2 separate regions of the Homo sapiens genome follow, and region 1 is linked to region 2. Evidence: fine-mapped expression QTL. A gene starts in region 2. The other region holds a variant in brackets. All regions are shown on one strand. Distances are from middle to middle. Region 1 overlaps CRLF3 (cytokine receptor like factor 3). Region 2 holds the start of CRLF3 (cytokine receptor like factor 3).

The links.
Region 1: its variant is fine-mapped to the expression of CRLF3 in tibial artery (GTEx, PIP above 0.99).

What each region holds. Positions count from the first base shown.
Region 1 is chr17:30,776,360-30,787,742 of GRCh38, forward strand. It overlaps CRLF3 (cytokine receptor like factor 3), which reads right to left. Exons shown (of 8, transcript NM_015986.4): 7 at 9,560-9,672; 8 at 6,325-8,084. The coding sequence ends at 7,828. It also overlaps the pseudogene SUZ12P1. Among named protein-coding and RNA genes, the nearest start is that of CRLF3, 43 kb to the right of the region's middle. The variant G/A (reference allele first, on the strand shown) is at 7,736.
Region 2 is chr17:30,814,802-30,830,993 of GRCh38, forward strand. It overlaps CRLF3 (cytokine receptor like factor 3), which reads right to left and starts at 9,891. Exons shown (of 8, transcript NM_015986.4): 1 at 9,722-9,891. The coding sequence starts at 9,850. It also overlaps the pseudogene RPS17P3. RefSeq lists a silencer at 9,803-10,182 and enhancers at 9,890-10,184, 16,125-16,192.

The DNA.
Region 1 (11,383 bases), 41 kb before region 2:
AAGCAAGAAAAGAGCAACATGGGAGACTATTCTTGATGGGAAGCTATGGACTACTTAGAAGGTTGAGCACATTATAGTTATGAACTCCCATTTTTGATTGATGTTTTCTTCCCCAAATGCTAATTCATGTTGGAAGTAGAGGCCTTTGTTTTTTATACTTTAAAAAACACAAGTAAATGATCTAGTCAGAGCATTTAACGGAAGGTATCATTCCTTTTTTTTTTTTTTTTTTGAGGGGGAGTCTTGCTCTGTTTCCCAGGCTGGAGTGCAGTGGCATGCTCTCAGCTCACTGCAACTTCCACCTCCCGGGTTCAAGCGATTCTCCTGTCTCAGCCTCCCGAGCAGCTGTGATTACAGGTGCGTGCCACCACGCCTGGCTAATTTGTTTTATTTTCAGTAGAGACGGGGTTTGACCATGTTGGCCGGGCTAGTCTGGAACTCCTGACCTTGTGATCCGCCCACCTTGACCTCCCAAAGCGCTGGGATTACAGGCATGAGCCACTGCACCCGGCCACACGGAAGGCATCATACTTTGAGAGCCAGACTGCCTGATTGAAATCTCTGCTCCTAGCTATGTGGCATTTGGCAAGTTATTTATCCATGTCTCAGTTTCTTCACCTGTAACATGAGACATAGAATTGATGGATTAGATGAAATAATAAAATATTTAGTACAGTGCCTGGCATACAATAAGTGCTCAATAAATGTTAACGGCTATTTTAAATTCTATTCATTGTAATGGCAGATAATAAGGGATGACTAGTAATACATTTATCAAGAAATCTGCAGAATTTAGATTAAGCATACTTAAAATAACTCTTAAGAGATAAAGAGGAATCCATACATTTCTTAAATAGGGAGATTCAAAACTGTAATGATGTCTTTTATTTCTAAATATGTTAGGTCAGTGTACCATCCGATGCAAAATCTCATAAGGATTTTTTTAAGTCTTAAAATTAGTTCCTAGTTAATCTAAAAGGATAAGTATTTAGTAATACTAAGGGAAATTTTAGAAAAATATTTTGAGAATTTTTACTTACCAGTTTTAGTATGATATACAATATACCGTTGTACATACCATAAAGTTAAGAGAACTTAAACCCTATGGTATAACCATAGGAATAGATATGCTTATCTATTCAGGCATAGTCCTGAAATAGTTTATGATAAAGGTGTTGGTATAGCTATGTGAGAAAGAGAAACTGTTCATTAATTGTGACAACTCTTCTCCAGTCATCTGGAAATAATCTTAGGCCTAATACATTCTGGAAGGCTCATAAACATGTAAAAATGAACATTCATAAGCATGGAAAAAAAAATAGGTGAATGTTAATATATTTAATATATTGCAGTGAGGAAGACCCTTCTAAGGATGATTGAAAAGTAAGAAAGCATAAAGTAAAAATTGTCGGGTTAAAATTAGTCATTTTTATACTGCAAAATATCTAAAGTTAGAAACAAATTATGGAATGGGGGAAATATCTGTAACACAAAATGCTAATATGAATACATAATATTGTGAATTATGAAACAAAAAGATACACAGTCTAATAAGAAATATGTGTGAAGGACTATCACGCAGTTCTTAAAAAAACAAAGAGATGGCCAGCAAACTTTTAAAGCAGTACTCAACCTTATTAGTACTCAAAGGCATGCAAATGCAGAGATACTACTTTTGAGAGTTTGACAAAGATTAAAAGTTTGACAGTTTCTAGTGTTTTAGGGACGTGAGGACACATATACTCTCAAATAATATTTTGATGTAACAGTTGGGGGCCGGGCTCAGTGGCTCATGCCTGTAATCCCAGCAGTTTGGGAGGCCAAGGCGGGTGGATCACCTGAGGTTATGAGTTTGACACCAGCCTGGCCAACATGTCAAACCACATCTCTACCAAAAACACAAAAATTAGCCAGGCATGGTGGCAGGTGCTTGTAGTCCCAGCTACTTGGGTACTTGGGAGGCTTAGCAGTATTACTTGAACCTGGGAGGCAGAGGTTTCAGTGAGCTGAGATTTTGCCACTTCACTTTATCCGGGGAGACAGAGCAAGACTCTGTCTCAAAAAAAAAAAAAAAGGTTGATACAGTCTTACTATAGGGCAGACTGGCAATATATATAAAGTTAAAATTGTATATATAGTCTTTAACAATTCAAATTTTATATTTTTGTCACAATGTAACTTGTTAACAAAAGATGTAGGTAACAGGTTTTCTCAGCATTTTTTAAATAATGAAACGTTAGAAACACGTTAAATCTAAAAAGCTATTAAAAAGGATGATAGTTTGACAAGATTTCCATATTAAATTTTTACATAAGTGTGTATATATATATATATATATATTTTCCCTCTTTCTAAAATTTATAATCGTGGTTAACTCCAGGTGATGAGATTTCAAATAATTTTTATCTATACTCTTTGGGTTTTCTGTATGGATTTATCTTTATGATCTTTTTCATTTTAAATTTCTTGTTTTAAAGTATGTTTTTATTCATGAGACTATAAGGATTATATATATGAAGGGTTTTTGTTGTTGTTGGTTTTGTTGTTGTTTTTGGATTTTTTTGTTTGTTTGTTTTGTTTTTGAGATGGAGTTTCACTCTGTCACCCAGGCTGGAGTACAGTGGCACGATCTTGGCTCACTGCAACCTCCGCCTCCCAGGTTCAAGCGATTCTCCAGCCTCAGCCTCCTGAGTAGCTGGCATCACAGGCGCGCACCACCATGCCCAGCTGATTTTCGTATTTTTAGTAGAGATGGAGTTTCACCATGTTGGCCAGGCTGGTCTCGAACTCCTGACCTTGTGATCCGCCCACCTCGGCCTCCCAAAGTACTGGGATTACAGGCATAAGCCGCCGTGCCCGGCCTGGCCTTTTTTTTGTTTTTTTCTGTTGAGATGGAGTCTCGCTCTGTCACCCAGAGGTGGAGTGCAATGGCACGGTCTCGGTTCACTGCAACCTCTGCCTCCTGGGTTCAAGCAATTCTCTTGCCTCAGCCTCCTGAATAGTTGAGATTACTGGCATGCGCCACCACGCCTGGGGGTTTCACCATGTTGGCTTGGCTGGTCTCAAACTCCTGACCTCAGGTTTTCCACCCACCTTGGAGTCCCAAAGTGCTGGGATTACAGGTGTGAGCTACTGTGCCCGGCCTATCTGGAAGCTCTTAACCCTGTAAAATGGGCATCCTTTTAAGTCAGAGCATATAGATTTACTTCTTTTTAAACGTTCTGAGTTTTTTTGTTTTGTTTTGTTTTTTTGGGTTCCTTAATTGACTAAACCAGTGCTGGTCTAATAGATAAGTGGGTTATTTGATTTTTTAAAATCTTGTCAAAAATGTTAATAGTGATTATACTTGAACCTGTATCAAGTATTTTATAAGATAAATTCCTGTGGAGTGCTGTGTCCAAACTAGTCTCTGAACACACTTTTACTACATTCTAGTCTAAATAGTTTTTTGAGATGGAGTCTTGCTCTGTCGCCAGGCTGGAGTGCAGTGGTGCAATTTCGGCTCACTGCAACCTCTGCCTTTCAAGTTCAAGCAATTCTCCTGCCTCAGCCTCCTGAGTAGCTGGGATTACAGGCGCCTGCCACCACGCCCGGCTAATTTTTTTGTATTTTTAGTAGAGACGGGGTTTCACCGTGTTAGCCAGGATGGTCTCCATCTCCTGACCTCGTAATCTGCCGGCCTCGGCCTCCCAAAGTGCTGGGATTACATGCGTGAGCCACTGTGCCTGGCCATTTATTTTTACAGCGAACTACATTTGCCACTGTACTCCAGCTCGCTGTAGCCTCAAGCTCCTGAACTCAAGTGATCCTCCCACCTTAGCCTCCTGAGTAGCTGGCTAATGCCTGACTATGCCTGGCTAATTAAAAAAAATTTATTTTGGTAGAGATGGGGGTCTCATCATGTTGCCCAGGTTGGTCTTCAACTCCTGGCTTCAAGCAATCCTCCCACCTTGGCCTCCCAAAGTACTGGGATTACAGGTGTGAGCCAGCAGTCCCGGCCAAACTTGCTAATTTTAATTTGTGTCTTTTTGCTTTACTAAATAGTAACCATGAGTGTTCTGAGCTTTTCTGAGTTCTGTGAGTCCTGGCAAATAATTGAAAGTGAAAGTGATCTTAAGCACCCCTGAACACATTTACCACGCATGGCCCACTTGCATTCATCTGGTATTGGAGGGAAACAAATTTCTAGAGTTTCAGTTGCTACTTTTCAGTTGTTCCATGGTGCTTTCCAGGAGTTCCAGTCGATGATATGGGGTTTCGCCTGTCATCACATCTGTCAGGCTTTGCGCCTTCTTCATCCTGCACAGACACTGAGATCATGCAGGTCTTGTATCTGTTTGTAGTTCGTCTTCACTAGCTTGTATTTTGGGATTTGAGGGGGTAAGTGGTCACCTAGTCTTACTGTAGATATTATCCAGGGGATTTTGCTTTTGTTATCTATCTAGTTGCTCTATTTCTTTGTTTTGTTTGTGTTTATTTATTAAGAGATGGGGTCTACCAATGTTGCCTAGGCTCACTGCAACCTCGAATTCCCAGGCTCAAGCAATTCTCCCACCTCAGTCTCCTGAGTAGCTTTGGAACTACTGGTGGGCACCACAACACCTGGCTAAATTTTTTTTTTTTTTTTTTTTTTTTTTGAGACAGAGTCTTGCTCTGTTGTCCTGGCTGGAGTGCAGTGCCAAGATCTTGGCTGACTGCAGCCTCCACCCCCCGAGTTCAAGCAATTCTCCTGCCTCAGCCTCCCATGTGGCTGGGACTACCAGCGTGCGCCACCACATCCAGCTAATTTTTGTAATTTTAGTAGAGACAGGGTTTCACCATATTGGTCAGCCTGGTCTCGAACTCCCGACTTCAGGTGATCCACCAGCCTAGGCCTCCCAAAGTGCTGGGATTACAGGTGTGAGCCACCACACCCAGCCAAATTTTTTTTTTAAGTGAATAAAAAATGGCTAGGCATAAGCCACCATGCCCAGCCAAAAAATCAATTCTTGTGATCATATCATCACACAAACTCTTCCCTCCTAGCACATAGGTTTGGAGTACTAGGTTCCCTTACTTACTTGAACAGAATGATTTTTTTTTTTTTTTTTTTTTTTTTTTTTGAGACAAAGTTTTGCTTTTGTTGCCCAGGCTGGACTGTAATCATGTGATCTCAGCTCACTGTAACCTCTACCTCCCGGAGGGTTCAAGTGATTCTCCTGCCTCAGCTTCCTGTGTAGCTGGGATTATAGGCATCTACCACCATGCCCAGCTAATTTTTGCATTTTTAGTTGAGACGGGGTTTCACCATGTTGGCCAGGCTGGTCTCAAAACTCCTGATCTCAGGTGATCCACCTGCCTTGGCTTCCCAAAGTGCTGGGATTACAGGCGTGAGCCATCACGCCCAGCTAATGAGTTCATTTTTTTAAAAAAAATCTTCACAGTTCAAGAAAAAAAGTCAGTATTTAAATTAGTTTCAAGGACAGACACAGTGGCTCACGGCTGTAATCCCAGCACTTTGGGAGGCCAAGGTGGGAGGATCACTTGAGGCCAGGAGTTCAAGATCAGCCTGGCCAACATGGCAAAACCCCATCTCCACTAAAAGTATAAAAATTAGCCAGGTGTGGTGGTGCACACCTGTAATCCCAGCTACTTGGGAGACTGAGGCAGGGAAATCCGTTTAACCCAGGAGACAGAGGTTGCAGTGAGCCAAGATTGCACCACTGCACTCCAGCCTGGGTAACAAAGTGAGATTCTGTCTCAAAAAAAATTAGTTTCAGAGTTCCAAATATTACCACTCCTGTCTCAAATTAGGTTTAAGGCACTCCTGTGAACAGGCAGATTCTATAGGTATAAATTAAGATGTCATTTCCCTAGAGAGGCTAAGAAATAAATACATTCAACAAATATTTGATGAATTAAAGGAATGAGATGAAGATATCTGGAGAAAACGACTCATTCGATCCACCATTCATTCTGCACACATTGTGTCAGGCAAGATGCTCAGTATCAGACACAGAATATAGGAAAGTACAAGTAACCAGCTGGGTGTGGTCACTCATGCCTATAATCCCAGCACTTTGGAAGGCCAAGGCTGGGGAGGACTGCTTGAGGCCAGGAGTTTGAGACCAGTCTGGACAACACAGCAAGACCCTCATTCTCTACAAAAAATATTTTTAAAAAAGTTTTTAAAAGAAAGTACAAGAAGGTACACATACCCTTTCACAAGTCACAGTGATATCTTACTAAAATGCCTGGAGCCACAAGAAGCCTGTTTTCCCTTCAAATGAAAAGTAGGTTAAAACTGGATTCACCAAATCTCACAGAAGAAAAAAGTACACACACTGAACTTTTTTAGTTTTTTATTTTGATTCCTATGGCTGGACAAGGTATCTACATTCTAGAACATCTTCTTAATCCCTAAACAAGTGGAAATCTACTACTTATATATAAAAAGACAAGTAGAAAAGGTCATGATTGTCTAACAGGGAACATGAATCCCCAAATAAATTATCTTACAAAAATATCATACTTGCTTTTCTACTTTTTTACTATACTGGTAAAAATGAAATGAAAAAAATAATTCACATTAAAATAAAATCTGTAGGGTGGCATAGAAGACAATTATTTTTACATATTAAAGTCCTTCAAATAAATATTTTACACACAAATTTAAGTAAGTTTTTAAAAAAAATAAGTATTTACGCTATATTTTTTTGCTCTGCTAAAAAGAGACCACTTATTAAACTGACATTAAACTGGACTGCAGCTCATTCTCTGCAAAGAGTAAAATGCATGTCACAGGCAGATTGGATACACACGTGCATATTACATACATATGAAATGGCTAACACTGCTGTGCATACTACTGCCATAACTAGTTTTACCCTGTAAAAATACTGTAGCCTATACTGTATCAAATTGCAATGAAAGAACAAAAGGTACTACTTGCCTATTTTAGACACTTGGTCAAGCATTTAAAAAAATACAAAAATTGGTCCACTGCAGTGGCTCACACCTGTAATCCTAGCACTTTGGAAGGCTGAGGTGGGTGGAACACCTGAGGTCAGGAGTTCAAGACCAGCCTGGCCAACATGGTGAAACCCTGTCTCTACTAAAAATACAAAAATTAGCCAGGTGTGGTGGCCGACGCCTGTAATCCCAGCTACTCAGGAGCCTGAGGCAGGAGGATCGCTTGAACGTGGGAGGCAGAGGTTGCAGTGAACTGAGATCACACCACTGCACTCCAGCCTGAGTGACAAGAGTGAGACTCCGTCTCAACAAAAAAAGAAAAAGTTATAATGTTTTGGGGACTTAAAGATTACTGAAGAGGGGATAAAAGTCAACACTGCTTACAAATACCTGAACATGGAGAGCACAGTCAACACATTCATGTGGACAGCACATGAACGGATGTATTAATACATTACACAGCTTCTTCTATCTGACCTATTCCTCTTGTTCTAAAGAGTTACATGGACTTGGATCCTTTAAGATGATTTTAAAAATAATATTACATTAAGTTTTCCTGGTCTAATAACCAACTTTGAGAAGTACAGTGGAAGGGTATAGAACTTCCTATATCTTCTATACTTTTAATGCCAATTTGATTTTTATTGTGATGTGATATTTAACAGTATGCTAAAAATAAAATTGACTGAATTGTATGATTTTGTCCACAACATTGAAGTCTCTTTTTGCTAAAATATTACAAAATGAATCCAGTAAACACTTTCCAATGGCCTAAGTTAGAGAT[G/A]AATTCAACTTTTTTTTTAAAGCAATTACAACTACGCTGGGCTGAGGACAGCTACGTTAGACCCTGAAAACCAAAGCCAAGCACCCAAACATCTAAAACACTAACACTTTCCATCCAGGATAGAAAAATGAGCATCCAAAGTAAAGAGAACCACAAGACTGATCAAGTAACCAGTCAAAAACCACTTCTCTATTATTTGAACTTATAGTTACTCGAAGCTTGAAGTGTCCACCTTCATTATTACTGGTGGTTCCTAGAGTCACGGCTTCAATGTCAAACGTGACAGTGGACCCAGAAGTAACTGCGGGTAACTGATTTGTCATTTCTTTTCCATTGACAAAAACTGCACCTAAAATGTTAAGGTAAAGAGTCATTTACATGTGAGCAATAACTAAGAGATCTGAAATAGTTTCTAGATTACTGGTAACACAGCTCATTTCCTAATTCAGATTTTAAAAAATCTGGAATGCCAACTGGACATAGATTTTAGAGTTCTGTCCAGGGTTGTACTCTTCCAGCAGAGACTATGAGTTTCCCATATCAGTGTCATCAAAAGAAACTTGACAGTGTTACAAAATTACCTCCTGTGAAATAGCAAGACTATTTCTTATGGAATAAACAAGAAAGAATCTTGTTCTACCGAATTCTTGACTCACCAACACAATTTTTTTTTTTTTTTTGGAGACAGAGTTTCACTCTTGTTGCCCAGGCTGGAGTGCAGTGGCATGATCTGGACTCACTGCAACCTCCACCTCCCAGGTTTAAGCAGTTCTCCTGCCTGAGCCTCTCGGATTACAGGTATGTACCACCACGCCCAGCTAATTTTTGTATTTGTAGTGGAGACAGGGTTTCACCATGTTGGCCAGGATGGTCTCGATCTCTTGACCTTGTGATCCACCCACCTTGGCCTCCCAAAGTGCTAGGATTACAGGCGTGAGCCACCGTGCCCAGCCAACACCACAAAATATTATTAACATGTCTTGCTAGTGAATTTTTTTTTTTTTTTTTTTTTTTGAGACGGAGTCTCACACTGTTACCTGGCATGATCTCGGCTCACTGCAACCTCCGCCTCCCGGGTTCAAGCGATTTTCCTACCTCAGCCTCCCAAGTAGCTAGGATTACAGGCACCCGCCACCACACCTGGCTAATTTTCTGTATTTTTAGTAGAGACAGGGTTTCACTATGTTGGCCGGGCTGGTCTTGAACTCCTGACCTCGTGATTTGCCCGCCTTGGCCTCCCAAAGTGCTGGGATTAGAGGCGTGATCCACCGCGCCCGGCCTCTGGCTAGCGATTTTTAAAGAGCACTAGGGATGTAGACTGAATGATTTATTATTTGTAGAATTTAGAACAATGCCTGGTACATGGTAGTCACATAAATTATGTCATTAAGACCAAAACTTTCAGCCAGCCACGGTGGCTCACGCCTGTAATCCCAGCACTTTGGGAGGCCACCAAGGTGGGAGGATTGCTGGAAACCAGGAGTCAAGACTCACCTGGGCAACAACTTATCTTTACAAAAAAGTAAAAATAAAAAAAATTAGCCAGTCACAGTGGCATGCACCTGTAGTCCCGGCTACTCAGGAGGCTGAAGTGGGAGGATGGCTTGGGCCCAAGAATTTCAGGCTGCAGCGGGCTACGATCATGCCACTGTACTCCAGCCTGAGTGATGGAGTGAGACTTCATAATAAAAAAAAAAAAAAAGAAAAAGAAAAATACCTAAATTTTCTCATCTCCTACTATAAATGTATGGAACTGGAACAGATTCACATATTACTAAAATAATTAATATATTTCCAAGAGAATGACAGTTATTTATCTCTTACCATTTGTACTAATGCACACAGCTTGATCCCGCTGCAGAGAGTCATATCCATCCTGTTTTTCTGCACACACTCCTATGCTATCTCTTCTGTCTGGCTGTCCCACAGTTTCAACTCTGTAAATGAAGTAGAAAGGTCATTTCATACTTTTAAAAATATAACATGAATGATACTTAACAGCCACTAGCTTAAAAAGAGCAATCTCACCACAATTGTTTTTTTCTAAATAGTACAGCAACCATGATTGAGTTCTTGCTATACTCCAGGCACTGTTCTAATTATTTTATATCTATCTATCATTCTTACAACAATCTATGAGGTAGGTGCTTTTTCTTTTTTGTTGAGACGGAGTCTCGCTCTGTCACCCAGGCTGAAGTGCGGTGGTGCGACCTTGGCTCACTGCAACCTCCGCCTCCCGGGTTCAAGCAGTTCTCTGCTTCAGCGTCCCAAGTAGCTAGGATTACAGGTGCCCGCCACCATACCCGGCTAAGTTTTCTATTTTTAATAGAGATGGGGTTTCACCATCTTGGCCAAGCTGGTCTTGAACTCCTGACCTTGTGATCCACCCACCTCGGCCTCCCAAAGTGCTGGGATTACAGGCGTGAGCCACTGCGTCCAGCCGGTAGGTGCTATTTTTAACATACCCATTTTATAAGTGAGGAAAATGAGGCACGAAAAGAAAAAAAGATTAAAAATAGCTAAATAACCTGATCCCGACTACCTGGCTGATGACTGGTGGAACCAGGACTCAAACACAGGCATTCTGACTCTAGAATCAATCAATCTATCTATCTATTTTTTTGAAATGGAGTTTCATCCTTGTTGCCCAGGCTGGAGTGCAATGGCGCGATCTCAGCTCACTGCAACCTCTGCCTCCCTGGTTCAAGCGATTCTCCTGCCTCAGCCTCCTGAGTAGCTGGGATTACAGGGATGCACCACCATGCCCGGCTAGTTTTGTATTTTTAGTAGAGACGGGGTTTCACCATGTTGGTCAGGCTGGTCTCGAACTCCTGACCTCAGGTGATCCGCCTGCCTCGGCTTCCCAAAGTGCTGGGATTAGAGGCGTGAGCCACCACACCTGGCCTAATTTTGTATTTGTAGTAGAGACACGGTTTCACCATGTTGCTCAGGCTGGTCTTGGAACTCCTGACCTCAGGTGATCCACCCTCCTTGGCCTCCCAAAGTGCTGGGATTACGGAGTGAGCCACCGTGCCCGGCCTAGAATCTATATTCTTAACCATTTGTAGCCATGATGGCACACTTCTATTTTATATTCTAGCTCTAGACACATAGAAGGTTTGTCATAGTTGACATTATAATTTATGTAACTATTGCTGCCAGCGCCTAAATCTTCCATATAAGAATTTGCAATGATTTGATTACTATTTGTTAAGTAAATAAAGCATTTAAAAAGAACTATTATAATCCTAAAAAATCCCATTATGGTTATGAAGACACTATTCAAGCATGAAGAACTTCCTATGTGGCAAGTTTAAGCTTTTCCTTTTGTGTTTTCATTTCAGATGTCAGTACTTTGTGTGCTCTTGAAATAGGAAATGTACAGATCCCTATTGCCAGACACATCATTCTCTCCATCCAGAAAGCCAACTTTGCAAGGACAAAAAAAAAAATTAGTGTGAAACAAAATGTGGCTTTTCCAAAGACAGATGTGATTATTTATAGTCAATGTGGCCTCAAAATGTCATTGATTGTGAAATAGCAAACATGCAGGATCATAATATTTGGGTAGGTTTCTGAAGTTATTTCATATCTGAGCAGTCTAAAGAAGTATGGGGAGGAGGGGCCGGGCATAGTGGCTCACACCTG
Region 2 (16,192 bases):
GACCAGCCTGACCAACATGGTGAAACCCCATCTCTACTAAAAATACAAAATTAGCCGGGTGTGGTGGCACATGCTTGTAATGCCAGCTACTCGGAAGGCTGAAGGAGGAGAATCACTTGAACCCCCGGGAGGCGGAAGTTGCCGTGAGCCAATATTGCGCCATTGCACTCCAGCCTGGGCAACAAGTGCGAAACTCCGTCTTTAAAAAACAAAAAAATCTACACACAAAAACATACCTCTATAACATTCACACACATTTTTTTCTTTCTTTTTTCTTTCTTTCTTTTTTTTTTTTTTTTTTTGAGATGAAGTCTTGCACTATTGCCCAAGCTGGAATGCAGTGGCGCAATCTTGGCTCTGTGCAACCTCTGCCTCCCAGGTTCAAGCAATTCTCCTGCCTCAGCCTCCCGGGTAGCTGGGATTACAAGCACCCACCACCAAGCCTGGCTAATTTTTGAATTTTTAGTAGAGATGGGGTTTCAGCATGTTGGCCAGGCTGGTCTCGAACTCCTGACCTCAGGTGATCCACCCGCCTTGGCCTCCCAAAGTGCTGGGATTACAGGTGTGAGCCATTGCGCCTGGCCAACTTTTTGTATTTTTAGTAGAGATGGGGTTTCACCATGTTGGCCAGGCTGGTCTTGAAACCCTGACCTCAGGTAATCCACCCAACTTGCCATCCCAAAGTGCTGGTATTACAGGAGTAAACCACCCTGCCCGACCAGAAAATGGCTAGTTTCTTCTTTTTTTTTTTTTTTTTTTTGAGATGCAGTCCCACTCTGTTGCCCAGGCTGAAGTGCAGTGGCGCAATCTCGGCTCACTGCAACCTCTAACCCCCAGGTTCAAGTAATTCTCTTGCCTCAGCCTCCTGAGCAGCTGGCATTACAGGCGCACCACCACACCCACCTAACTTTTTTGTATTTTTAGTAGAGACGGGGTTTCACCATGTTGGCCAGGCTGGTCTCGAACTCCTGACCTCAGGTGATCCGCCCGCCTTGGCCTCCCTAAATCCTGGGATTACAGGTGTGAGCCACTGAGCCCGGCCAGAATGGCTTGTTTTAATTCTCCTTGACCTCCTTCTATATTTCTGGGGAGTTTTAAACTCAACCAGCAGCTTTCAGAGTACCATATTTAAAGATGATTTCTGTACATTGGTGTTGTTCAGGAAATAAAAAGTTAAAAAAAAAAAAAAGACAATTTGTAGGCCGGGCATGGTGGCTCACACCTGTAATCCCAACACTCTGGGAGGCCAAGGCGGGCAGATCACGAGGTCAGGAGTTCGAGACCAGCCTGGCAAATATGGTGAAACTCCGTCTGTACTAAAAATAGAAAAACTAGCCGGGCATGGTGGCATGCACCTGTAGTCCCAGCTACTCGGGAGGCTGAGGTGGGAGAATCACTCGAACCCGGAAAGCAGAGGTTGCAGTGAGCCGAGATCGCACCACTGCACTCTAGCGTGGGTGACAGAGCAAGACTCCATCTCAAAAAAAAAAAAAAAAGACAACTTGTAAAAAGATTTATTGGTGAAAAGACTGACTCAAAAACCAATGTAAATATGTGGTCTTTTGCAAACAAATACAGTCAAGCATCACATAATGATGTTTTGGACAATGACAATCACATACATAATGGTAGTCCCATAACATTATATTACTATATTTTTATGTCTTTACTGTATCTTCTTTCTTTCTTTTTTTTTTTTTTTTTTTTAGACAGGGTCTAGTTCTGTTGTCGAGGCTGGAGTACAGTGGTGTGATCATGGCTTACTGCACCCTCAGCCTCCTGGGCTCAATAAATCCTCTCACCTTTGCCTCCCGAGTAGCTGGGACCACAGGCATGCACCACCACACCTGGCTAATTTTTAATTTCTTTGTGGAGATGGGGGTCTCCCTATATTGCCCAGACTGGTCTCAAACTTCTGGGCTCGAGATCTTCCCGTCTTGGCCTCTCAAAGTGCTGGGACTACAAGTGTGAGCCAGCATGCCTACTGCACCTTTTCTATGTTAGATGCACACTTACAGTTATGTTACAACTATCTACAGTATTCAGTATAGTAACATGCTGTACAGACTTGTACCCTAGGAGCAATAGAATATACCATATAGCCTAGGTGTGTAGCAGATGATACCATCTAGGTTTGTACAATGACAAAATCGCCCAATGACACATTTCTGAGAATATATCCCTGTTGTTTTGACTGTATATGTGTGGCTTTTATTTTTACCCCCCTTATTTGCAATTAGTTTTGCTTCCAGTATTTTGGGGTACCAGAATCAATACATTGCAACCTACCACCAACAAATGTTCCTTTAAATATCTACAATAGACTCCACCTCTGTATTAAAAATGAGGCTGTGGGACAGGCACAGTGGCTCACGCTTGTAATCCTAGCACTTTTTGAGGCCGAGGTGGGTGGACAGCCTGAGCTCAGGAGTTCAAGACCAGCATGGGCAATATGGTGAAACCTCCTTCTACTAAAAATACAAAAAATGAGCCGGGTGTGGTGGCATGCGCCTATAATCCCAGCTACTCAGGAGGCTGAGGCAGGAGAATTGCTTGAACCCGGGAGGTGGAGGTTGCAGTGAACCAAGGTGGTGCCACTGCACTCCAGTCTGGGTGACAAAGTGAGACCGTCTTCAAAAAAAAAAGCTTTGCATGGGAAAAATATTCTTGTAAATGCTTATGATGTTACCAAAATTCTTATAATGCTAACAAAATGCTTATAATGTTAATAAAAATTAAAAATTGATACAAAGTTGCATATACAGTAGTCTCTCAACTTTGCAGAATAATATGTATAGAAAGATACATCAAAATGTTAACTGCAGGCCAGGCAGGGTGGCTCAAGCCTGTAATCCCAGCACTTTGGGAGGCCGAGGAAGGTGGATCATGAGGTCAACAGATGGAGACCATCCTGGCCAACGTGGTGAAACCCCATCTCTACTAAAAATACAAAAATTAGCTGGGTGTGGTGGCAGGCGCCTGTAGTCCCAGCTACTCAGGAGGCTGAGGCAGGAGAATGGCTTGAACCCAGGAGGCAGAGGTTGCAATGAGCCGAGATGGCGCCACTGCACTCCAGCATGGCGACAGAGTGAGACTCCATCCCAAAAAAAAAAAAAAAAAAAAAAAGTTAACTGCAGTTGTCTGTAAGTAGTAGGTTATTTTAAAACTATTTCATCTGGGCTGAGTGTGGTGGCTCATGCCTGTAATCCCAGCACTTTGGGAGGCCGAGATGCGCGGATCACCTGAGGTCAGGAGTTTGAGACCAGCCTTCACCATGGTGAAACCCCGTCTCTACTAAAAATACAAAAATTAGCTGGGCGTGGTGGCGGGCACCTGTAATCCCAAGTACTCAGGAGGCTGAGGCAAGAGAATTGCTTGAACCTGGGAGGTGGAGGTTGCAGTGAGCCAAGATTGAGCCATTGCACTCCAGCCTGGGCGACAAGAGCGAAACTTCATTAAAAAAAAAAAATTATTTCATCTGTTCTTGGTTTTCCCTGTATCTGGATTTAACCTTTTCTTAGAATACTATAATAGGGACACTTTAAATACTACTACTGTAACAAATTATACACAGATTTTTGTAGTGTTTTCAAAATGGGTAACAGAAGGGGAAGTGGGAGATAAAAGGAGCAATAATGGCTTTCTTTTCTTTTCCTTTTTTTTTTTTTTTTGAGACAGTTTCACTCCTGTTGCCCAGGCTGGAGTGCAGTGGCATGATCTCGGCTCACCGCAACCTCCGTCTCCTGGGTTCAAGCAATTCTCTTGCCTCAGCCTCCCGAGTAGCTAAGATTACAGGCGCCCACCACCACACCCGGCTAATTTTTGTATTTTTAGTAAAGATAGGTTTTCATCGTATGGGTCAGGCTTGTCTCAAACTCCTGACCTCAGGTGATCCGCCCGCCTCAGCCTCCCAAAATGCTGGGATTACAGGTGTGAGCCACCACGCCTGGCCAACAGCTTTCTTTTCTTTGCTAAGCTACTGAGACTTCCTGTCTTGGTTTTTTGAAATAACTTTTGAGTGTTTTTTTTTTTTTGAGACAGTCTTCTTCTGTTGCTGAGGCTGGAGTGCAGTGGTGCCATCTTGGCTCACTGCAACCTCCATCTCCCAGGTATAAGCAATTCTCCTGCCTCAGCCTCCAGAGTAGCTGGAATTACAGGTGCATTCCACCACACCTGGCTAATTTTTTTTACATTTTTAGTAGAGACAGAGTTTTGCCATGTTGAAGGCTGGTCTCAAACTCCTGATCTCATGTGATCCACCCGCCTCGGCCTCCCAAAGTGCTGGGATTACAGGCGTGAGCCACTGAGCCCAGCCACCAACTAGTATCTTAATTAGGTACCAGGATCTTACCATTTGCTCTTGAAGGAGCAGAGACTTGCTTTTGTCAGTGTCCTGAGAAATACTGAATCAGAATACCAAAAGGTACATGAAAGCCAACATAGTCATTTTATAGAGTGAACTACAACACACAGACTAAAATACTGGCATTTCTCACTGTAGACACCTCCAGTACCTCAACTAATTCCCCTTTGATAATGTACCAAGATGAAGTTTTTGGACTTACAAAGATTAAAGACCAGGCCCTGACTTTGGCATTGTCATCAAGGTGGTGCCACTCTGTGAGGCCTGAGTGGCCAGCTGACATCACTACGTGACATTTTGATCAGTTATCTCTACTTACGTTTTTGTTTTTGAGATGGAGTCTCGCTCTGTCGCCCAGGCTGGAGTGCAGTGGTGTGATCTTGGCTCACTGCAACCTCCGCCTGCCCGGCTCAAGCAATTCTCCTGGCTCAGCCTCCTGAGTAGCTGGGACTACAGGTGCACGCTACCACACCTGGCTAATTTGTATTTTTTTAGTAGAGACGGGGTTTCACCATATTGGCCAGGCTGGATCTCTACTTATAACAAACAGAAAGGCCAATGCTGTAGAAATAGGACAAGTGATGAAAGATATAATAGAAGTGAAATATAAAAATGAATACACAAATAGAACTTATATTTTTCTTACTTGTTTTGTTTTTAGGGGTAGTAACCTAAGTATCAGCCACCAAAGGAAAGAGGAAAGCATAAATCCATGAGGGCAGTGATCTATTTCCTTGAACACAGAATCTAGGACCTAGAAGTTTCTCAGCCCTACAGTAGGCACCCAATAAATATTTATTGAGTGAATGAACAAATGAATATTTAAGGACAGTGGGAGTTAATTTCTTTGGTATTTACATCTTAGTACCAAGGATTCCAGTGAGCTATAGAGAACTATTCTTAATGATTTCAACATCAGCTAGGCCAAGTTGGCTGTAAACATTATCTGATTTCCTGAAGACAATGAACAGCTTTCTAGCCTTTAACTTATTCAAACATTAAGAGTTAACAGACAATCCTTGCATTCCTACACAGAACTTCCTTTTCTCTGAAAACAGAGGGTAGAGCCCAAACTTAACCACAAGAGGAGAAACTGCTACATGTTGGCAGTTTTGACAGAATAACTTAAAAACATTTTTATTCTTCTTCCTTCTAAATGTTCATACAACATGATTTCTCAATACGAGACAAATTTCATGCTAGAGTTTAAAGGATAAGAAACTAAAGCAAAGACAAAAGGTAGGCCAGATGCAGTGGCTCACACCTGTAATACCAGTACTTTGGGAGGCCGAGGCAAGAGGATTGCTTGAGCTCAGGAGTTAGAAATCGGCCTGGCAGCTGGGCACGGTGGCTCACCCAGGCACGGTGGTAATCCCAGCATTTTGGGAGGCTGAGGTGGGCAGGATCACCTGAGGTGAGGACTTCGAGGCCAGCCTGGCCAACATGGTGAAACCCTGTCTCTAGTAAAAATACAAAAAGTAGATGGGCATGGTGGCAGACGCCTGTAATCCTGGCTATTCGGGAGGCTGAGGCAGGAGAATCTCTTGAACCCAAGAGGCGGAGGTTGCAGTGAGCCTAAGGTTGCAGTGAGCTGAAGGTTGCAATGAGCCAAGATTGTGCCACTTCACTCCAGCCTGGGCAAAAGAGCGAGACTCTCTCAAAAAAAAAAAAAAAAAAAAAGGAAGAAACTGTCTGGGAAACACAGGAAGACATCATCTCTACTAAAAAAAATTAAACAAAATTAGGCAGGTGTGGTGGTGTGTACCTATAGCCCCAGCTACTTGGGGATCTGAGACAGGAGGATGGCTTGAGCCTAGGAAGTCGAGGCTGCAGTGAGTTCTGATCATGCCACTGCACTCCAGCTTGGGTGACAGAGCAAGACTCTGGCTCAAAAAAAAAAAAGAGGCTGGGTGCGGTGGCTCAAGCCTGTAATCCTAACACTTTGGGAGGCCAAAGTGGGTGTTCATCTGAGCCCAGGAGGCTGGACAACATGGCAAAACCCCATCTCTACCAAAAATACAAAAAATTAGCCAGGGGTGATGGCACGTGCCTGTAGTCCCAGCTACTCGGCACACTGAGATGGGAGGATCACTTGAGCCTGAGAGGCAGAGCTTGCAGTGAGCTGAGATTGTGCCACTGCACTCCAGCCTGGGTGACAGAGTGAGGTCCTTTCTCAAAAAAAAAAAAAAAGAAAAAAGGAAAAAAAGTATGCCAAGAGTTTCTGAAAAGGTTAAACAAAAAGTTACCATGTGATCCACCAATTCCTAGCTATATTCTAAAACAACTGAAAACATGTCCACACAAAAAGTTGTCTACAAATTCTTTACAGAAGCATTATTCATAATAGTCAAAAGTGGAAATAATCCAAATGTCCATTAATTGATGAATGGATAAATAAAATGTGGTATATCCACATAACAATTATTCAGCCATAAAAAGGTTTGAAGTACTGTTACATGCTACCACATCAATGAACCTTGAAACATTATTCTAAGTCAAAGAAGTCAGTCACAAGGGGCTACATACTGTATGAGTTCATTTATATGAAATGACCAGAATAGGCAAATCCATAGAGACAAAGTAGTTTTGTGGTTGCCAGGGGGTATGGGAGTGACAGCTAAGGAGTTCTTTTGGGGGTGATGAATATATACTTGAATTAGACACTGGTGATGGTTGGACAACTCTATGAATATACTAAAAACCACTGAATTGTAAACTTTAAGGCATGACTTTTACGGTGTGTGAATTATATCTCAATAAAAAAAGTCACATGCCAGGCAGCACAGTGGCTCACACCTGTAATTCCATCACCGGAAGGCAGAGGTGGGAGGATCTTTTGAGCCCAGGAGTTGGAGACCAGCCTGGGAAACGTAACAAAACCCTGTCCGCACCCCCGCCAAAAAAAAAAAAAAAAAAAGAAAAGAAATCATCTGCCAAAAAGATATAAAATCAGCAAGTAAAAAATACAGACGACAGGTGGCATCCCTTCCTCTCTGCTCTTCTCATGCTTCTCCCATGCAAAATCCTTGACTAAAGTGCCATATATTTTACAGTTATTCTGAAAATGACTGGAACCCTAAAAATATCCAAACCACCAAACAAAAGCAGCTGCTTACTTTGATAATATTTTTGTACCATAGACCTTCCTTAAAATGCAAGTTGACAGAGGACTTATGCCACAAACCCAAACATGCACAATCCACTAGAGTTAGCTTCGAGAGATGCTGTTGTAACTGCCACTGGCACAAAACACATTCCCAAAAGAGACTCACACTCACAAAAGAGAACTACATTATTACTCAGTCTAGTCAGAAGGCAATGTCATCAGGAACCTAATTGTGATCGATGTTCATTTAGTGTTTTCTGTCTGAAGCCCAAGACAATGGGCCTCAAAAACAAAACAAAACAAAGCTCATAATAAACTAAACCACAGAAAAGCATGTCCTGTATTTAAATTGTTGGATATAAAATTGAAAAAATACAGGTTTGAAAATTGAATACTGAACCATCTAGGGTGTAATCACGATTTTTTTTAATGCATCCAATATCAAGAGAAATTAATTACTCCCAGGTGCTAAACTCACTCATTTAGTGTCAACTCTGATTCTTAATTGCTAATACAAAAACAATAATCATGGTCATATAGAATACATCTTAACTGACTGAAATGTTAGATGGTATTTTAATATCTTTCTTTTCATACAATGTCTTACATCTAGAGTCCCTATTTCAAAATAGCAGAAGGAATAATGCAGATATTTTCAAAGAGAAATAGAGATGAGTGCATTGAAAGGCCTTGAAAAGTATTCACCAAATCAGCATAATCATATCTAGATTCTGCTTCCGGTTTCGCCACTAAAATGCAAATGATGTCTGGCCTACACTGGCTTTACAAATATTTTTAAATATATAAAACCCGGCCGGGCGCGGTGGCTCACGTCTGTATCCCAGCACTTTGGGAGGCTGAGGCAGGTGGATCACGAGGTCAGGAGTTCAAGATCATCCTGGCCAACCTGGTGAAACCTCCTCTCTACTAAAAATACAAAAATTAGCCGGGTGTGGTGGCGCAGACTTGTAATCCCAGCTACTCAGGAGGCTGAGGCAGGAGAATCGCTTGAACCCGGGAGGCGGAGGTTGTTGCAGTGAGCCGAGATAGTGCCACTGCACTCCACCCTGAGCGACACAGCCAGACTCCGTCTCAAAAAAAACAGATTATATATATACATACTTATATATGTTTGTATATGTTTTATATATATATATAAAACCCAAAACATGTTGAGTCGTTAATGATGAGAATATCCAAAGACACTGTTAGCACAGCACTTTTCTACCATTTTCAGGTTATATGCAGCAAGGAAGTGCTAAGACGACCAACTAGATTAATATCAAGTATGACCCAGAGAAATTCAGATGGAATCCCACTCACTCAAAAAGCACTTATTAAGCAGTTGCGTTAATAGTACTCTGAAGATTATCCGTCCTATCGCCAATTGGCAGCGGGTTATATCTTTTTCTATATATATTCGAGGGTATAGAGAAACCATATGGCTTTCCTGTATCTTTGATAACTCTTGCCCTGTGAAACAGATAACTGCACCACTTGAAATTATATTTAGCTTTTCCTTTCAGCACTCCTCTCTTAAAATCTATTTTTCCATTTCTCTATACCTTTGTATTCCCTCTCTCAAGGAAAAGGAAATCATTTTCCTTCTGCTCTTCCAACATAGCTTCACCTTCACCTTAAATTTTAAACCTTCTAGAACAGGATTACTCTAAATGATTTTTTAAAAAGCATTCAAGATCGTATGACATATTATTCAGGCATTAACCGCATTTATTGTCAAATGCTACTGCTTCTCAATCCCTACCTCTCCCTCACTCTCGCCCCTTAGTCCTCCCCTTCCAATATCCATTTTGTCTCCACTTTCAGCTCTCCCAGGTCACTGTCCCACCTCTTCCTCAGGCTCTCTAAAATCAATGCCTCCCCGCCTACCCACCGCAGGTTTTTTACCAGTCTCCTCCTCCCCCGACTCATCACTACCCGCATGACCCCCTCGGATTCTGCTCTGGTCCCTCACTCTCCCAAACTTCGGAGGCCACCGCTACTCCCATCGCTGCCCCACAGTTTAGTGAACGCTCCTCACACCCTCCCTCCACCCCCAAAACTTCCCCTTACGACCTCCCCAACTCCCACCTTCCCCGTTCCCAGACTCCATTAGGTCTCCTTTCAAATGAATGCCTCTTCCCTACTCCAGAGTTTTCGGACAGTCCCACCCCTCAAAGCCCTCCCAGCCTTCGCCCGGCATCCGCGCCACCCCCGGGCCCACAGCGCCCCTGTGGGTGTGGCCCTCCGACCTGCCTCCGCGCCTCACGCAGCCCCTCAAGCCGGTGACCCAGCTCCCGCCGGTAGCTCTGCGCTGCCTCCACGTTCTCGCGGGCCTCCTGCAACAGCAGCTCAGGCTCCAGCTCCATCGCCCCCCTCATCTGGCCGCGCGGCCGGCGAAACCTAGCGCGGGTTCCCGACTGCACCGGGCGCCTCCAAGCGGCCCGGCGCGGCCTCGCGCAGGCGGAAGCACCGCCCAGCCCCGCCGCCCCATGCCCCACGACGACCTTGATTGACGGGCGCACGGCGGCGCCTCGCGCGGGTGGCGTCCGGGTCCCAGCGCCGCCCGCCCCGCGGCTCACCCCGCCTCTTCCGTGCTGCGGCACAGCGCCGCTGGTTGGGCCTCCTTGGGAAACGTGCTGAGGCCTGGCAAGGTTGATAACCCGCACCTTGCCAAGTGCTTCTCACAGCTCATCGCATTCTTGCCTGACCTTCAGCCCTACCTGTATCTCCATTGCTCAGATGAGGAAATTGAGGGATAAAGGGGGGAATCGGCCGGGCGCGGTGGCTCACGCCTGCAGTCCCAGCACTTTGGGAGGCCGAGGCGGGCGGATCCCTTGAGCTCTGGAGTTCGAGACCCAGCCTGGGCAACACGGCGAAACCCTCTCTCACCAAAAATACTACTACTATTACTATTACTACTACTACTACTGCTACTACTAGCAACACGTAGTGGAGCACGCCTGTGGTCCCAGTGGATCGCTTGAGCCCGGGGGCCGAGGCTGCAGTGAGCTGTAATGGAGCCACTGCACTCCAGCCTGGGCGACAGAGCGAGACCCTGTCTCTAAATAAAAAATACTTTTTTTTAAATTAAAAATTTTAAAAAATAGCGAATCGACTTTTCCAAGCCGCAGAATTTGAGCCCAGATCTGATGACAAAAGCCCTGGTCCTTAAGAGCAGAGCAGGCCTTAGGGGAATTTACTAAGACCCAGGTGTCAGCGGGGAGCAGTGGCTCACGCCTGTAATCCCAGCACTTTGGGAGGCCGAGACGGGTGGATCACTGAGGTCAGAAGTTCAAGAGCAGCCATGGCCAACCTGGTGAAACCTCATCTCTACTAAAAATACAAAAATTAGCCGGGTGTGGTGGTGGGCGCCTGTAATCCCAGCTACTCGAGGGCTGAGGCAGGATAATTGCTTGAACCGGGAGGCAGAGGTTGCAGTGAGCCAAGATTGTGCCACTGCACTCCAACCTGGGCAACAAAGCGAGACTCGGTCTCAAAAAACAACAACAAAACCCAGGTGTCACCACCCAGAAGCTCGTGGACGAATGGGGGATCCAAGAGAGAGGCCCAAGAGATGACCAGCAGGACAGCAATTCTGGCACAAGTCCAAGAAGGGTGTTGGCAAGTGTTATCTGTAAGGACCGTAGTGAATAAGCTGGGCTTGGGCTTGCCAGACCGGAAGGTATCTGTCACAATAGGTGTGACTGTATGTAATAAAACCTTATGGGCAGGGCATGGTGGCTCACACCAGTAATCTTGGGAAGCTAAGGCAGGAGGATTGCTTGAGCCCAGGAGTTTGAGACCAGCCTTTGCAACATGAGGAGACCTCCTCTCTACAAAAAGATTTAAAAAAAAAATTAGCCGCGGGTGGTGGCGCCCTCCTGTGGTCCCAGCAATTCAGGAGGCTGAGGTGGGAGGATTCCTTGAGCCTAGGAGTTAGAGACCAACCTGGGTAACATAGCAAGACCCTATGTCTATAAAAATAAAAATAAATAAATAAATAAGTAAAATTACAAGGAAAACTTCCATAAAACCAGGACATGAATCTTGGTCTCATTCAACTTTGTTTTCTTAGTCTGATGGAAGGCAAGAAGTGTGTATCTAACATATCTACACTATACCCAAAAACAAAACAAATAAGAAAATTGAAGGAAATATTCTAAAACTGCTTACCCCTAGACTTGACATTTTTAGATGCATTGTTTTTAAATTTAGAGCATGAATTCCTAAAGAGTAAATGTTCTCGAGGAAACTGGTTTAGAAGTAGATGTCAGCTAGCCATCAGACAGAGTTTTACAGAGATATCTCCATGGCATCACATTGGTCCAGAACTGACTTTTCAAGTGTACCCAGAGGATTCCAGGGAACAGACTCTTGCTAATAAGACTCACAAGAAACAAACTAAGCAGCTTGCCAATTTATTTATTTACAACAGGAATATAATTGTTGAAAAAAATCACAATAGCTGGAAAATCAAGTTATAACCAGAGAGTTGGATTCAGATCAGAATACGTTGGTCATCTGGTCAGCAAAGGCTTTTTCCCTCTCCTGTCTCCAACCTCTTCTCAGAAAGCTCCTAACTGGGCTGGGTGTGGTGGCTCATGCTTGTAATCCCAGCACTTTGGGAGGCCTAGGTGGGTGGATCACGAGGTCAGGAGTTCAAGAACAACCTGACTAACAGGGTGAAACCTCATCTCTACTAAAAACACAAAAAATTAGCCGGGCTTGGTGGTGGCGCGCACCTGTAATCCCAGCTACTCAGGAGGCTGAGGCAGGAGAATTGCTTGAACCCAGGAGGCAGAGGTTGCAGTGAGCTGAGATAGTGCCACTGCACTCCAGTCTGAGCGACACAGCAAGACTACGTCTCAAAAAAAAAAAAAAAAAAAAAAAAAAAAAGAACGCTCCTAACTGTACTGGACACATAGTTGACAATTTTTTGCTCTCTGACTCCACCTTTCATTCCAGCTTTTTTTTTTTGAGACAGGGGCTTGCCTGTCACCTGTCACACAGGCTGGAGTGCAGTGACACAATCAGGGCTCACTGCACCCTTGATCTCCTGGGCTCAAACGATTCTCCCACCTCAGTCTGCCTAGTAGGTAGGATTATAGACACCTGCCAGTAGACCCAGACACTTCTTTAATTTTTTTGTTTGTTTGAGACAGAGTCTCCCTCTGTCGCCCAGGCTGGAGTGTAGTGGCACCATCTCGGCTCACTGCAACCTCCACCTCCTGGATTCAAGCAATTCTCCTGCCACAGCCTCCAGAGTAGCTGGGATTACAGGCGCCCACTACCACACCCAGCTAATTTTTGTGTTTTCTTTTTTTGTTTTTGTTTTTTTGAGATGGAGTCCTGCACTGTCACCCAGCCTGGAGTACAGTGACATGATCTCGGCTCGTTGCAACCTCCGCCTCCCTGGTTCAAGCGATTCTCCTGCCCCATTCTCCTGAGTAGCTGGGATCACAGGCACTGGCCACCACGCTCAGCTAATTTTTTGTATTTTTAGTAGAGACGGGGTTTCACTATGTTGGTCAGGCTGGCCTTGAACTCCTGACCTTGTGATCCGCCGGCCTCAGCCTCCCAAAGTGCTGGAATTATGGGCGTGAGCCACCACACCTGGCTCTAATTTTTGTATTTTATTAGACATGGGATTTCACCAAGTTGGCCAGGCTGGTCTTGAACTCCTAACCTCAAGCAATCCATCCACTTTGGCCTCCAAGTGTTGGGATTACAGGTGTGAGCCACTGCACCTAGTCTTAATTTTTTTTTTTTTTTTTTTTTTGAGATGGAGTCTTGCTCTGCTAACCAGGCTGGAGTACAGTGGCACGATCTCGGCTCACTGCAACCTCCGCCTCCCGGGTTCAAGCAATTCTCCTGCCTCAGCCTCCCAAGTAGCAAGGACTACAGCTGTGAGCCACCACTCCCGTTAATTTTTGTAGTTTTAGTAGCGACTGGGTTTCCCCATGTTGGCCAGGCTGATCTTGAACTCCTGACTCCAGATGATCCACCTGCCTCAGTCTCCCAAAGTGCTGGGATTATAGTTGTGAGCCACTGCTCCCGGCCTCAGCCTTACATTTTTTTTTTTTTTGTAGAGGCAGGGTCTCTGTATGTTTCCCAGGCTGATCTAGAACTCCTGGGCTCAAGCAGTTCCCTGCCTTGGTCTTCCAAAGTGCTCTGATTACAGGCCTGAGCCACCATGCCCCACCCATATTTTTTCTTTATTTTCTTCCTTTCTTTAATTTTTTTGAGACAGAGTCTCACTCTTATGTCATCCAGGCTGGAGTGCAGTGGCGCGATATCAGCTAACTGCGACCTCTGTCTCCCGGGTTTAAGTGATTCTCAGCCTCCTGAGTAGCTAGGATTACAGGCGTGCGCCACCACACCCGGCTAATTTTGTATTTTTAGTAGAGATGAGTTTTTCACTATGTTGGTCAGGCTGGTCTTGAACTCATGACCTAAGGTGATCCACCTGCCTTGGCCTCCCAAAGTGCTGGGATTACAGGCGTGAGCCACCCCGCCCAGACAACAATAACGATTTTTAAAAGTAGGTGTTAGACACATGGGGAAGATAATCTGAAATGACATGGGCACTCTGTAAACTGTGAATTGCTTTACCATGTGAGAGTTCATTTAGATTAAAATTGATAAAAGCCATGAGCTCCTAAATAAGGGTTGGTAAAATACTATGTATCTAAAACTACTCAGTGGAAATGCTTAACAACTTAATGCAGTTTAAATGCTTTGTAACTCAGAAGAATAAAAAGCACTAGAGAACACCGTATATAACCCAACAATCCCATTTCTAGATGTGAATCCTAGAGAAACATTACACGTGTTGAAGAAAACATGGACAAGACTGTTCATTGCCTCAGCATTTGAATAACAGAAAATTGGAGACAATTTAAATATTCATCAGTAAGGAAATGGATACAGGTGGCTCACCTGTAGTCCCAGCACTTTGGAAGGCCAAGGAGGGAGGATTGCTTGAGCCCAGGAAGTTCCAGACCAGCCTGGGCAACATGGCAAAACCCTGTCTCTACAGAAAATACAAAAATTAGCCGGGCATTATGGCGAACGTGTTGTCCCAGCAAATTGGGAAGTTGAGGTGGGAGGATCTCTTGAGCCAGGGATGTGGAGGCTCCAGTGAGCAGTGATCACGCTACTGCACTCCAGCCTGGGTGACAGAGTGAGATCCTGTCTCAAAAAAATAATAATAATACAACCTGGGCAACATGGCCAAACCTCTTCTCTACAAATACAAAAAATTAGCCGGGCGTGGTAGCGCACTCCTGTAGTCCCAGCTACTTGGGAGGCTGAAGTGGGAGGATTGCTTGAGCCCAGAAGTTTGAGGCTGCAGTGAGCAGAGATCATGCCACTGCACTCAAGCTTGGTGACATAGTGAGACCCTGTCTCAAACACAAAAACAAAACAACAACAATAAAAATGATAATAATAAGGAAATGAATAAATAAAATGAGTTGCATAAATAGAATGTTCAGGAAAGAAAGGGAATGAATCAAATCTATATGTATCATGGATGGCTTTTGAAAAAAGTGTTGAATGAGGCCTGGTGTGGTGTCTCACGCCTGTAATCCCAGCACTCTGGGAGGCCCAGGCGGGCAGATCACGAGGTCAGGAGTTCAAGACCAGCCTGACCAACATGGTGACCCATCTCTACTAAAAATACAAAAAAAAAAAAAAAAAAAAAAAAAAAGCCAGGCATGGTGGCACGAGCCTGTAATCCCAGCTACTCAGGAGGTTGAGGTAGGAGAATCGCTTGAACCTGAGAGGTGGAGATTACAGTGAGCCAAGATCGCGCCATTGCATTCCAGCCTGGGCGACAGAGCCAGACTCCGTCTCAAAAAAAAAAAAATAAATAAATAAATAAAAAGTTGAGTGAAAAAAAGCAAATTGGCTGGGCACAGTGGCTCACTCCTGTAATCTCAGCACTTTGGGAGGCCAAGGCAGGTGGATCACCTGAGGCCAGGAGTTCCAGACTAGCCTGGCCAAGATGTTGAAACCCTGTCTCTTAAAAATACAATTAGCTGGGCATGGTGGTACGCACCTGTAGTTCCAGCTACTTAGGAGGCTGAGGCAGGAGAATCGCTTGAACCGGGGAGGTGGAGGTTGCAGTGAGCAGAGATTGCGCCACTGCACTCTAGCCTGGGTGACAGAGCCAGACTCCACCTCAAAAAAAAAAAAAAAAAAAAAAAAAGCGCGGTGCCGGACGCAGTGGCTCAAGCCTGTAATCCCAGCACTTTGGGGAGCCGAGTTGAGCAGATCACCTGAGGTCAGGAGTTCGAGACCAGCCTGGCCAACATGGCGAAACCCCGTCTCTACTACAATACAAAAATTAGCCCCGCATGGTGGCACGCGCCTGTAGTCCCAGCTACTCGCGAGGCTGAGGCAGGAGAATCGTTTGAACCCGGGAGGCGGAGATTGCAGTGATTCGAGATCGTGCCACTACACTTCAGCCTGGTGCAACAGAGGGAGACTCCGTCTCAAGCAAACAAACAAACAAACAACAACAACAAAAACGATGCACTCAAACAAATGTAACATGCTGTATTTAATGTAATTGCAACTTTAACGTAAAAAAAAAAGAGCTATTTTACCAAGGACCCACCAACATGGGGCGCGTTCGCACCAAAACCGTGAAGTAAAGAAGGCGGCCCGGGTCATCATAGAAAAGTACTACATGCGCCTGGGCAAAGACTTCCACA